3 linked regions of the Homo sapiens genome follow. The protein of the gene in region 1 purifies or fractionates together with the protein of each later gene. This does not show direct contact. Each region holds a gene or a part of one and is shown on either strand. Other genes may lie near its edges.

Region 1 (3,649 bases):
GTTCCCATGATCCCTACGTGTGGTGAGGGGGACTCAGTGGGAGGTAACTGAATCACGAGGATGGTTCCCCCGTGCTGCTGCTCTTGTGATAGTGAGTTCTCACAATATCTGATGGTTTCTTAAGGGGCTTTTCCCTCTTTTGCTTGGCACTTCTCCTTGCTGACACCATGTCAAGGACATGTTTGCTTCTCCTTCTGCCCTTATTGTTAAGTTTCCTGAGGCCTCCCCAACCAGGCTGAACTGTGAGTTAATTAAACCTCTTTCCTTTATAAATTACCCATATAATAAAGGGTATGTCTTTATTAGCAGCATGAGAACAGACTAATACACATGTTAATCCTCCGCCTTCAAAACAAGTATTTAATTTTCTTCTGAAAACAGTACAATATTTATTAGCTCTTACTACTCACCACATTAATGAAAGAGCAACCTATCTGAATAGAAAAGGCTTGACCTTTAGATTCAGTTCAACTTGGGGTTGAATCCTACTTTAAGCTGTCACTTACTCATTATGGCTTAGTAAGTGCCTCAGTTTCCTCATCAATAAAATGGGGATCAAAATAGTAGCTATCTCATAGGACACCACTGGGATGCTTACATGAGAATCTATGCAAAATGTTTAGAACAGTTCCTAGCACAAATAACAGCTCAATAATTGTTAGATATAATTACCATTACTACTGTTTAATAAAGATGTTTTAATTAAATGAAATGATACAATTATACCTAGTTGACAGTATGTTTTAAAGATCAGCGATAAGGCCAGGCATGGCGGCTCATGCCTGAATCCCAGAACTTTGGGAAGCTGAGGTAGGATGACTGCTTGAGTCCAAGAGTTTGAGACCAGCCTGGGCAACATAGTGAGACTCCATCTCTATAAAAATTTAAAAAGTAGCCAGGCATGGTGGTGAACACCTGTGGTCCCAGCTACTCAGGAGGCTAAGGCCAAAGAATCGCTTGAGCCCAGGAGGTTGAGGCTGTAGTGAGCTGTGATTGTGCCACTGTACTCTAGCCTGGGCAACAGAGAGAGACCCTGTCTACAAAAAAAAAAAAAAAATTAGAGATAACACAGTATTTCAGTGATTCTAAGATGCTCATTTTCTCACATTTCAATATCTCTGACATTGGAATGCCACTTGTAATTCATGATTTATTACAACTATAATTGGAAGCATTTTTAAAATTGAAAAACAGATTTTTAAAACAAAGTAATTCTTATTGTGTTTTCAAGAAACTTCAACACAAAAGAAACTCAGGATTCAAATGAATAGGTTGGCTCATTTTATTCAATATTTAGATTTATAGAATATATGCAGATATTTCCAATGACTAATATTCGTGTTTAAGACATAAATTTTCAAAAGGGTAATTAAAGGTTATTTCTTATAATTTTCTACCTTCAGAAACACTTTTGTTTATAAAGAGGGGTTGGGTGCAGTGGCTCACGCCTGTAATCCCAACACTTTGGGAAGCCAAGGCAGGCAGATCACTTGAGGTCAGGAATTCAAGATCAGCCTGACCAACATGGTAAAACCCCATCTCTGCTAAAAATACAAAAAGTAGCCGGACATGGTGGTACATGCCTGTAATCCCAGCTACTCGAGGGGGCTGAGGCAGGAGAATCACTTGAACCCTGGTGGCAGAGTTGGAGTAAGCCGAGATCATGCCACTTTACTCCAGCCTGGGTGTCAGAGCATAATCTCCTCTCAAAAAAATAAATAAATAAGAGGAGGGAGGAAAAGCTTCAATTGAGATTGCCCTAATAGTCTAATTTTAAATCTCTCAACTTGCTCAGGCTGGGCAGGTATGCAAACATAAAGGTTTTGAAGATGGAAAGGTCCTGAGAGATAGTAGACTATGTTTTCACCTGCAATTGCCTTGACCTGAATGAATGCACTCCACTCTGGCCTTTCTTTCCTCTTAGCTCCTAAGGAATCCACAGATCCACTTTGGATTACCCTCTTCTAAGGCCTGCTCACACCCTTAACAGGACTTTTCATATGGGATCCCAAATGGATTCTCCCTCCCACCAACAGCTCTCATACTTGACCAGAGCTCTCATCTGTCCTCTATAAACATCCAAACATTCTTTGCCAAAACAAATGCTAAGAGACCAGACCAGTCTCAACACAGGAGCCAAGCAGCTCACCAGAACTTCTCTCAGGCTTGATTTCCTGGGGATGAGTTAAATACCTGCTTCCAGAAGTGCAGGAGATTCACATCAAGCTCTATGAAGACAGTTTTATATGAGAAATCAGCAACTTTCCATCTTCCCTGACAGCTCTGTAAATTTGTCATAAAATGCATTCCCAAATTCATAGCAGATTAGCTACATTATGTATTACAATGCTAATGCAAGACTGAAATAGTTTAGAACACCACACAGCACTTATATACATATATATGAAGTTCCTGTTGTGAAAGGGGAATAAATATCATATTCATGACTAAAATAGGGATTCACCTCTGACAGAAAAGAATTTGCATAGAAGTAAAATCCTCACTTCAAAGATATCAACTCTGGCCTGGTGCAGTGGCTCATGCCTGTAATCCCAGCACTTTGGGAGGCTGAGGCAGGCAGATCACCTGAGGTCAGGAGTTTGAGACCAACTTGGCCAACGTGGTGAAACCCCGTCTCTACTAAAAATACAAAAAAAATAGCCAGGCATGGTGGTGGGTGCCTGGAATCCCAGCTGTTTGGGAGGCTGAGGCACGAGAATTGCTTGAACCTGGGAGGAGAAGGTTACAGTGAGCCAAGATCATGCCAACTCACTCCAGCCCAGGAGACAGAGCGAGACTCCATCTCAAAAAAAAAAAAAAAAGAAAAAAAAATCAGCTCTGCAAATCTTCATGTCCACTACTGTTATGTTTCCAATTCAAAGATCAAGTCTATATTCTACCACATTTTATTAAAATACTACGCACTTACATTAATATGCTTATAACTAGCGGTGGTTCACGCCTGTAATCCCAACACTTTGGGAGGCCAAGGCAGGCAGATCACTTGAGGTTAGGAGTTTGAGACCAGCCTGGCCAACAGGGTAGAACCCCATCTATACTAAAAATACAAAAATTAGCCAGGCATGGTGGCACGTGCCTGGAATCTCAGCTACTAGGGAGGCTGAGGCAGGAGAATTGCTTGAACCCAGGAGATGGATGTTGCATTGAGCCGAGATCACACCATTGCACTCCAGCCTGGGCGAAGAAGCGAGACTTCACCTCAAAAACAAAAAAGGCCAGGCGCGGTGGCTCAAGCCTGTAATCTCAGCACTTTGGGAGGCCGAGGTGGGCAGATCACAAGGTCAGGAGATCGAGACCACCCTGGCTAACACAGTGAAACCCTGTCTCTACTAGAAATACAAAAAAAAAAAAAAATTAGCTGTCCCAGCTACTCAGGAGACTGAGGCAGGAGAATCGCTTGAACCCAGGAAGCAGAGGTTGCAGTAAAGCTGAGATCTGGCCACTGCACTCCAGCCTGGGCAACAGAGGGAGACTCTGTCTAAGAAAAAAAGAAAAAAGAGATAGTAGACTATGTCTGCTACATAACAGGTATTCAGGTTATGATTGATGAATAAATGGATTGAAAGAATGGAAAAATCATTAGGGAGTTCAATATTTTTAAATAAAATTCTTATAAAGTAGAGTAATT
Region 2 (3,649 bases), on another chromosome or scaffold:
GCTTTTCTCTTCAACTCTGCTAATTTTGCAGCACTTTCTGACTCAAGCCTATCTTCCAATGCCTTTAACTCCTCCTCTTTGCTTTTCACACTTAAATTCACATGTTCTAATTCTTTCTTCTTAGTTTCAAGTTCAGCTTTCATGGAATAAACTTGGTTTTCAAGTGTTAAGATTTTTTCTTCAGCTTCTTTAACCCTGTTGTCCTTTTCTTCTCCTAACTCTTGAAAATGTTGAAGTTTCTGAACCAATTCTTTGTGTTCAATATCCTTTTGTTGATTGTAATTTTTAAGAACTTCATTTAAGGACTCTATTTCAATAGTTTTCTGGGTAATATGGTCCTCTAATTCCATAATTCTTGCTGTTTGAGACTTTAACTCTGTTTCTAAATTAGACTCCTTTTTCTCCATCTTGCTCTTGTCGTCTTCCATTTCACCCTTTAAACAATCAAATCTTTTATTTTGCTGATCAAGCTCTTCCTTCAATAAATTTATCTGCTCATCCTTTTCATAAGCTTCCTTTGATTTTAACTCAAGCTGGATCTGCAATTCTTTAACAGTGTTTTGATGCTGTGTAAATCTTGACTGTGCTTTCTTCTTCCATTCTGAGAATTTATTGGACCAGTCATCTACCTGCTCAAGAGCAGAAATTTTCTCTTTACTCAGAGTGTCAACTTTAAAAGATAAATCTTGCACCTGATCCAGCAATTCACATTTTTCTTCATCATACTGCTTTCTTAGTGATGAAATGGCTGCTTCTTTTTCGGATAGGCTGATGCTATTTTGAAGCTGAACATTCAAATCAGTTAGTTGTTTACTAAGACTGCTAATCTCAACTTTTTTTTCTTTAAGCTCTTCTTTCATCAATGTGACAGCATTGATGTTTTCAGATAACTCTTTCTTCAACTGTGTTATACAAGACTCCTTTTCAGAAGCAGCCTGTTGCTGATTGCCTCCTTCCTTCTGTAAGGCTTCTTTTTCTGTTACAAGACTTTCAATATCAGCCTTCATGCTCTTAATTTGATTTTCTTTTTCTTCTAACTGATGAGTAGCCTGTTGAAAAGAAATATTTAGTGTATTTTGCTCCTCTGTCAACTGTCTAAGTTGTGCTTCTAATTCAGAAACTGTGCAAGTTTTAATTAACAGTGCCTCCTTAACTTTAGTTGTACGGTGCTGACAATGAGAAATCCTAGAAAGAATGGCATTAGTTTTACTACTACTAATGTTGATTAGCTCATTTGTTTTAGCTTCTAATAAGGCTTCGGTTTTCTTACAGCAAATATCTAGCTGAATCGCTAGTTCCTCAGACAGTTTTTTAAATTCCAAGCTCTTGTCCTCTAGGCTTTTGTTACTTTTTTCATGTGAAGATTTCAAACTCTGGAATTCTTCATCTGTGGTTTTCAACTTGCTAGTCAACTCAGAAACCTTCCGCTTATCTTCTTCTGCCAGCATCTTCAGTTCAACTAGCTGCTCTTGAAGAAAAGTATTTTCCTTCAGAGACTTATTCAAGTCAACCTCTAGCTTTTCAAGATGAGCTTTCAGTTTAGTTTCATCTTGTGCAAGAGAATTCACATGGGCAGACTTCTGCTTTAACTGTTCCTGTAATTCATTTAATGTTGTATCCTGCTTAACACCTTCTTCCTTCAGCCATGTTATTTCCTTGTTCATCTCTTCTTTTTCACACCCAAATAGGAGGATCTTTTGTTTCAGTTCTGCTACCTCTTGTTCTTTTTCCTGTAATTGGATTTCATGTATTTCCTGAAGTTCTTCAGCTTGCTGATTAAGTTTCTTTTCCCAGATTGATATGACATCATTGAGTTCTCGTCGATGAACCTCAGTAAGACTTTCTATTTGTTCTTTTTGGTTTGTTTCCAGTCTTGACACTGCATCACTGATTCCAGCTGAGTTAGCCTGTGCCATTTCCAGCATTTTGGCATTAAACTGTTTTTCTTTCTGACTAAGCTCTAGAGCAGTATTTTCAAGCTCTTTCTTAAGTTTGGCTTCCTGATCCAGTAATTTTTTCTTTAACGTTTCTTGCATCTCCTTTGCTTTCTGCTTAACTTTTTCCATCTTTTTTTCTTGGTTTTTAAATTTGGTTTCATATTCCTCATTCAAAATATGAATACTGTCCTCCTTGGCTGACAATTTCTGTGTGAGTATCTCAATTTCTTTCTTCTGTCCTTCTCTCATTTGTAAAATCATATTTTCCTTTTCCACCAAGATTTGCTTTGTCTGTTCCTGTTCTTTGTTACCATCTTCAAGTTTGGACTCATAGACTTGGGTTAAAGATTTTACTTTTTGCTCCATTTCACTATTTTGTTTTTCAAGTTGCTGCATTAAGTCCTGCACCTGGATTTTGTGAGCATCTAACTCAGTACAAACATCTTTCTTTTGTGCTTCAACTTCAGCAACCTGTTTGGTAAGAAGAATTCTTTCTGTTTCCAAATCCAACAACTTCTGCTGCAATTGGGCCAACTGTTCCTCATATGCTTTTGTCTGCTCATGTGTGGCACTCTGGTAAGACTGAAAAACGTCCAGCTTAGCAGATGCCTGCTGGAGTTCCCCTTCAGACCTTTTAATATCTGCCTCTAAATTTTCTACATGAGCCTGATGCTCTTTCAAATGCTTGTCCCTTTCCTTCAAGAGAAGCTCAAGTTGATTAATTTGATCTTTTAATGCCTTCTCAGTCCTCTGGATAGATACCTCGTGTTCTTTAATGATACTGTCAACTTGCTGCTGGTGATGATTTTTCTGTTCATCCATCTTGGCCTCTAATTCCTGCTTCATTTTATCTGTTTGATCTTTCAGAACAGAAAGTTCCTCTTCTAGTTTGTGACGGGCTTTTAATACTTCTGACAGTTCAGAAGATAATGATTCTAGTTCTGTTTGCTTCACATCAAGCTTTTCTAAAGTCTTTTCATTCATTTCTTCTATGTGGGCCTGGAAGATAATCTCTTTGTCTTTCAACAATGTTTCTTTTTCTTGTTCACACTTTTCCCTAAGTTTTTCCATTTCAGTCTGATATTGTTGCTTTAAGACTTGGAGTTTTTCAGTCCAAAGGGCATCCTGCTGATGCTTAAGGCTTTCCAATTCTGTCTTGTGTTTTTCAACCATGACTGTAATCTCCTTATTGTGCTTATTTTTTTCAGCTTCCAGATGAACAGCCAAATCTTTTGACTGATTTTTGTTTTCTTGTAAGCTTTTTTCCAAAGAACTTTCCAATTCAAGAATTCTCTGTTAATTAAAAACAGATGCATTTTTATTAAAGTACGTACTTGTCTACTAACAATGATACACAGACATGATGTCTACCACCTACCTGAAGATCAAAATTATCATACCAAACACTAGAAAAGACAAAGAATCTATGCTCAATTACTAAAGGAATCATATAACAAAGAAAAGATTATGGCAAGGCACAGTCCAACAGTTTGGGAGGCCGAGGTGAGCAGATCACTTGAAGCCGGGAGTTTGAGACCCAGCCTGACCAACATGGCAAAGCCCTGTCTCTACCAAAACATACAAAAATTAGCCGGGCATGGTAGCATGCGGCTGTAGTCCCAGCTACTCGGGAGGCTGAGGTTGGGGAATCCCTTGAACCCAGGAGGCAGAGGCTGCAGTGAGCCGAGATCATGCCACTACACTCCAGCCTG
Region 3 (3,649 bases), on another chromosome or scaffold:
GCTCATTATCCACCAGGGCCTTCTGCTTCTGCTTCCGCTGCTCCTCCAGCTCACCCTCCAGTGCATTCACCTGGCTCTTCAGCTGCGCGATGTACCGCTGGGCCTGCGGGAGGAGGTGTGACGTGGGGCCCTGCCTGGGCCGTGAGGGGCCCTGGCCCCCACCCATCCCCACCCCGCACCTCCAGCTTGATCTTCTCCAGTTCAGAGCGGAGCATTTCCACCTCTCTCTTCAAGCTCTCAATCTGGAGGTCCCTGGGGACAGAGGTCCTGGGGTTCAAGTTAAGTCAACCAGAACAGTCAACAGACCCAGCACAGGAACCTGTCTCCTCCTCAGTGGCCACTCAGGATTTGGGCACCTCACGGGTTCATGTTCCCCACCTATGGCCTTTCCAGACAGAACTGTCCAGAGCACAGCTCAGCTGAGCCCGTTTCCAACCACCCCCAGCCCAGTCGGCTCCTCCAGCCCTCACCTGTCGTCCTTCACAGACCCATTGGGGGGTCCAAACGTCTGATCGAAGAGGTCAGCCACCACCTGCCACAGCAAAGCATGGTGACCCCACTCACCTGTGCCCTCCAGGCCGGGCAGTGGGCAAAGGGAGGGCTGGCCACCCGACACTCCCGTTGGCCTCATGCTGCAGCTGGAGGACTGGGGGACACGGGCTGGGCAGGGGGCTCACCACTGGCTCCCCCGCGGGGGGCCCTGTGCTGATCTCAATGAGATTCTCCGGCTCCTCATCTTCCGGGGCCTCCTCGGGGATCACCACCACCGGCTTGATGTGCTCAGCCAGGGCTGAGGCCCGCAGGAAGTTAGGGGGTCCCTGCAGGGGCGGCAGGTGGGACCTGCTCAGCTGTCCCCTAAGCAAGCCCTCCTTCCGCCATCTCCATAGCCTGTGTGGGGCCCAGCCAGGTGCCTGGGGTCCTCAAAGGGCCTCGGGGCCCTCTTGGGGGTGGTACCTCGGGCAGCCGGGGGATCTGGATGAGCCGCTTGAAGTACAGCATGTCGGAGGCTCTGCGGAAGAAGTTCCTGAGGCTGCAGAGATGGTGGGAAGTTCGGGTTCAGGAAGGGGCCACGGAGCCTCTCCCCCACCGGCCTCAATCCTGTCCCTGTCCCAGGCAGTACCTGTGAAACTGCTCGTGGAACCGGTCCCTGTGGCCTTGCAGGGTGTCCGCAGGGAGACCTGGAGGGTGGCACAAGTGTAACAGGACTTCTCTGCACACTGCTCAGGGGCTCACCTGCCCTGCCTTGTTCCTCCGTATGCTACAAACTCACAGATCAGAGATCACCTGAGACCGGGCCAGGCCCGCTCTCCCATCGGGATGGGGAGACCTGTGGGAGACGCTGTGGGAGGGCTCAGTTCAGACTGAGCTAGAGAAGGAAACAGCGAATGGAAAGGAAGGCGCTGCGGCCACATCTCACCTAACCCACACCTGGCTTCGGGAGGCACTAGCAAGCCGCTTTCACCAAACACGTTGGTCCCAGGCTGACACTAACACAGTGGTTCTCAAAGTGCGGTCGAGGGACGAGACCCTTTCAAGGGGTTGGTTAGATCAAAACTCTCCTAACACCCCAGACACCTTTTGCCTTTTTGCGCTTGCACCCCCAGGGTGCCTGGCGGGAGATTCCTGGGAGCAGCTGGGGCCTCCGTCTTGGCCGAGCCAGGCATTTAGTCGTAAAAATGAAAACCAAGCCACTCACTAAGTTTTTTGCTTGGTAAAGTAGTGGGTTTTTTTTTTTTTTTTTTCATAAAATATATGTTATTTCTATTAATGGGCAGTGGGTTTATTACTGCCATTTTTAAATGAATAAACCTCTAATTTTTCGATTTTCCTTTTTGACAGTGAATGTCTAAGCCATATAAACACAGCCTTCCGGGCCAGGGGTTGCCCTGGGCCACTCACAAGAGTGTAGCTTGAACAGGAGCTTGACCGTGTAGTGGTAGAGGTGGCTGCAGTCCTGGATGACCTGGATGAGGGGGGCCAGGCGGCACTGGCCTGAGGACATCTGGGATACGGCGATGGCCGTGTTGAGCTGTCGGAAAACTGTGCAAAAGGGGCAGGAGGAAGAACGTGAGCCCTTGGGAGCTGGGCAACCTGTCCAAGGTGGTCCAACTGTGAAGCAGGGCCCTAAGCCAGCTCCCACACACCAGTGTGCCCCCTGCCTCCAAGACGGGAGCCTCATGTGCTGGTGGCTGCCCCAGGTCAAGACCAGATGCTCCCATGAAGGAGGTCAACGGCAACAACAAGGTCAGGGCAAAGGAGCTCCCAGCCCAGCTCAGCAAGGGCTTCCAGAGACCTCCACCTGGGAGCCCAGGACGAGGTGCCCGACTGACAAGGGTGACGGATAGCTCCATGCCCACGGGCCTCAAACCCACGCTGAATGTTAGAGCAGGAAGGAGGCTCACGATGGAGCACCCCAAATGCCTAACTTTACAGATGTGGGAACAGGCAGGGCTTCTGCCAAGTAACACGGCACTAGGGTCACAGCTTGGCTCTGCACACCCCAAGTGACCCTGAAACCTCGCTTGCCCCCAGGGCCCATCTCCCCTGCCCCTGACACCCCCAGGGCCCGTCTCCCCTGCCCCTGACACCCCCAGGGCCCGTCTCCCCTGCCCCTGACACCCCCAGGGCCCGTCTCCCCTGCCCCTGACACCCCCAGGGCCCGTCTCCCCTGCCCCTGACACCCCCAGGGCCCGTCTCCCCTGCCCCTGACACCCCCAGGGCCCGTCTCCCCTGCCCCTGACACCCCCAGGGCCCGTCTCCCCTGCCCCTGACACCCCCAGGGCCCGTCTCCCCTGCCCCTGACACCCCCAGGGCCCGTCTCCCCTGCCCCTGACACCCCCAGGGCCCGTCTCCCCTGCCCCTGACAATCGGGCCTTGTATCAGAACTACCAAGTGGGAGGGACAAAGGACAAACATGAGGCTGCCTCCTCCTTGGCTGGCAGCTTCTCTGGGGCAGAGAGAATGACAAAGAGCAGGCAGCTGGCCAGCACGGGAGAGCGGCCAGACAGCCCCCGCTGCACAGACCTGTGCCCTGGCCCCTCAGGTCCTGCTCCTGCCTTGCCTGTGATGGGACCACTTGCAAATCTCTGCAGTGACAGGAGAGAGCCTGGGGGGGAGGGGCAAGAAGGAAGACACAAAGTGCCGCCCCTTGCCTTTTTAAAAAAGTAATCTCTAATTACATGTCATGCTAAGTATGTTTTCCTTGCAAAAAATTACAGCACACATAAAGTACTGCTTGGATCTTCAACACGTATGTCCATGCTGTTCGGCAATCTGCTTGATTTCACACAGTAGAATGTTTTCTAGATCTTCCCGGCCATCCCAGATTCGACACATCTCTCTTCCCACCACCCTCCGTTCTCTGCTCTGCACAGACAGCGAGACGCAGCCTCTGCTGAGGCATGTTTAGGACGTTTGTGTTTCTTTGCTGTTACAGGTCCTGAGGCAGGGAAGCCCCTGTACCTGTCACCTCTGCAGATCTGGGAATTTCTCCAGCAGATGCTGGTACACCCCATTTGTGCTTCATCAACACACCAGCGTCACCAGGTGGGAAGCGTGCCTGTGAGTGTTCTCCACTTCCCTCGTGGGGCCACTGCCTGCCCACACTGGCCTTCTCCCATGCCAGGGGTAACTGGCTCCTACCTGGTGG

Evidence for each region.
Region 2: the proteins of ANKRD26 (region 1) and GOLGA4 fractionate together in Homo sapiens (co-fractionation; one large-scale study listed by BioGRID). This does not show direct contact.
Region 3: the proteins of ANKRD26 (region 1) and HIP1R fractionate together in Homo sapiens (co-fractionation; one large-scale study listed by BioGRID). This does not show direct contact.

The regions. Positions count from the first base shown.
Region 1 is NC_000010.11:27,093,960-27,097,608, forward strand, and holds part of ANKRD26 (ankyrin repeat domain-containing protein 26), read right to left. Parts: intron 1-3,649. UniProt on the Homo sapiens protein: Acts as a regulator of adipogenesis. Involved in the regulation of the feeding behavior.
Region 2 is NC_000003.12:37,323,169-37,326,817, reverse strand, and holds part of GOLGA4 (golgin subfamily A member 4), read right to left. Parts: intron 3,231-3,649; coding exon 1-3,230. UniProt on the Homo sapiens protein: Involved in vesicular trafficking at the Golgi apparatus level. May play a role in delivery of transport vesicles containing GPI-linked proteins from the trans-Golgi network through its interaction with MACF1. Involved in endosome-to-Golgi trafficking.
Region 3 is NC_000012.12:122,852,434-122,856,082, reverse strand, and holds part of HIP1R (huntingtin-interacting protein 1-related protein), read right to left. Parts: intron 2,041-3,649; coding exon 1,900-2,040; intron 1,179-1,899; coding exon 1,121-1,178; intron 1,031-1,120; coding exon 955-1,030; intron 819-954; coding exon 678-818; intron 533-677; coding exon 471-532; intron 253-470; coding exon 180-252; intron 104-179; coding exon 1-103. UniProt on the Homo sapiens protein: Component of clathrin-coated pits and vesicles, that may link the endocytic machinery to the actin cytoskeleton. Binds 3-phosphoinositides (via ENTH domain).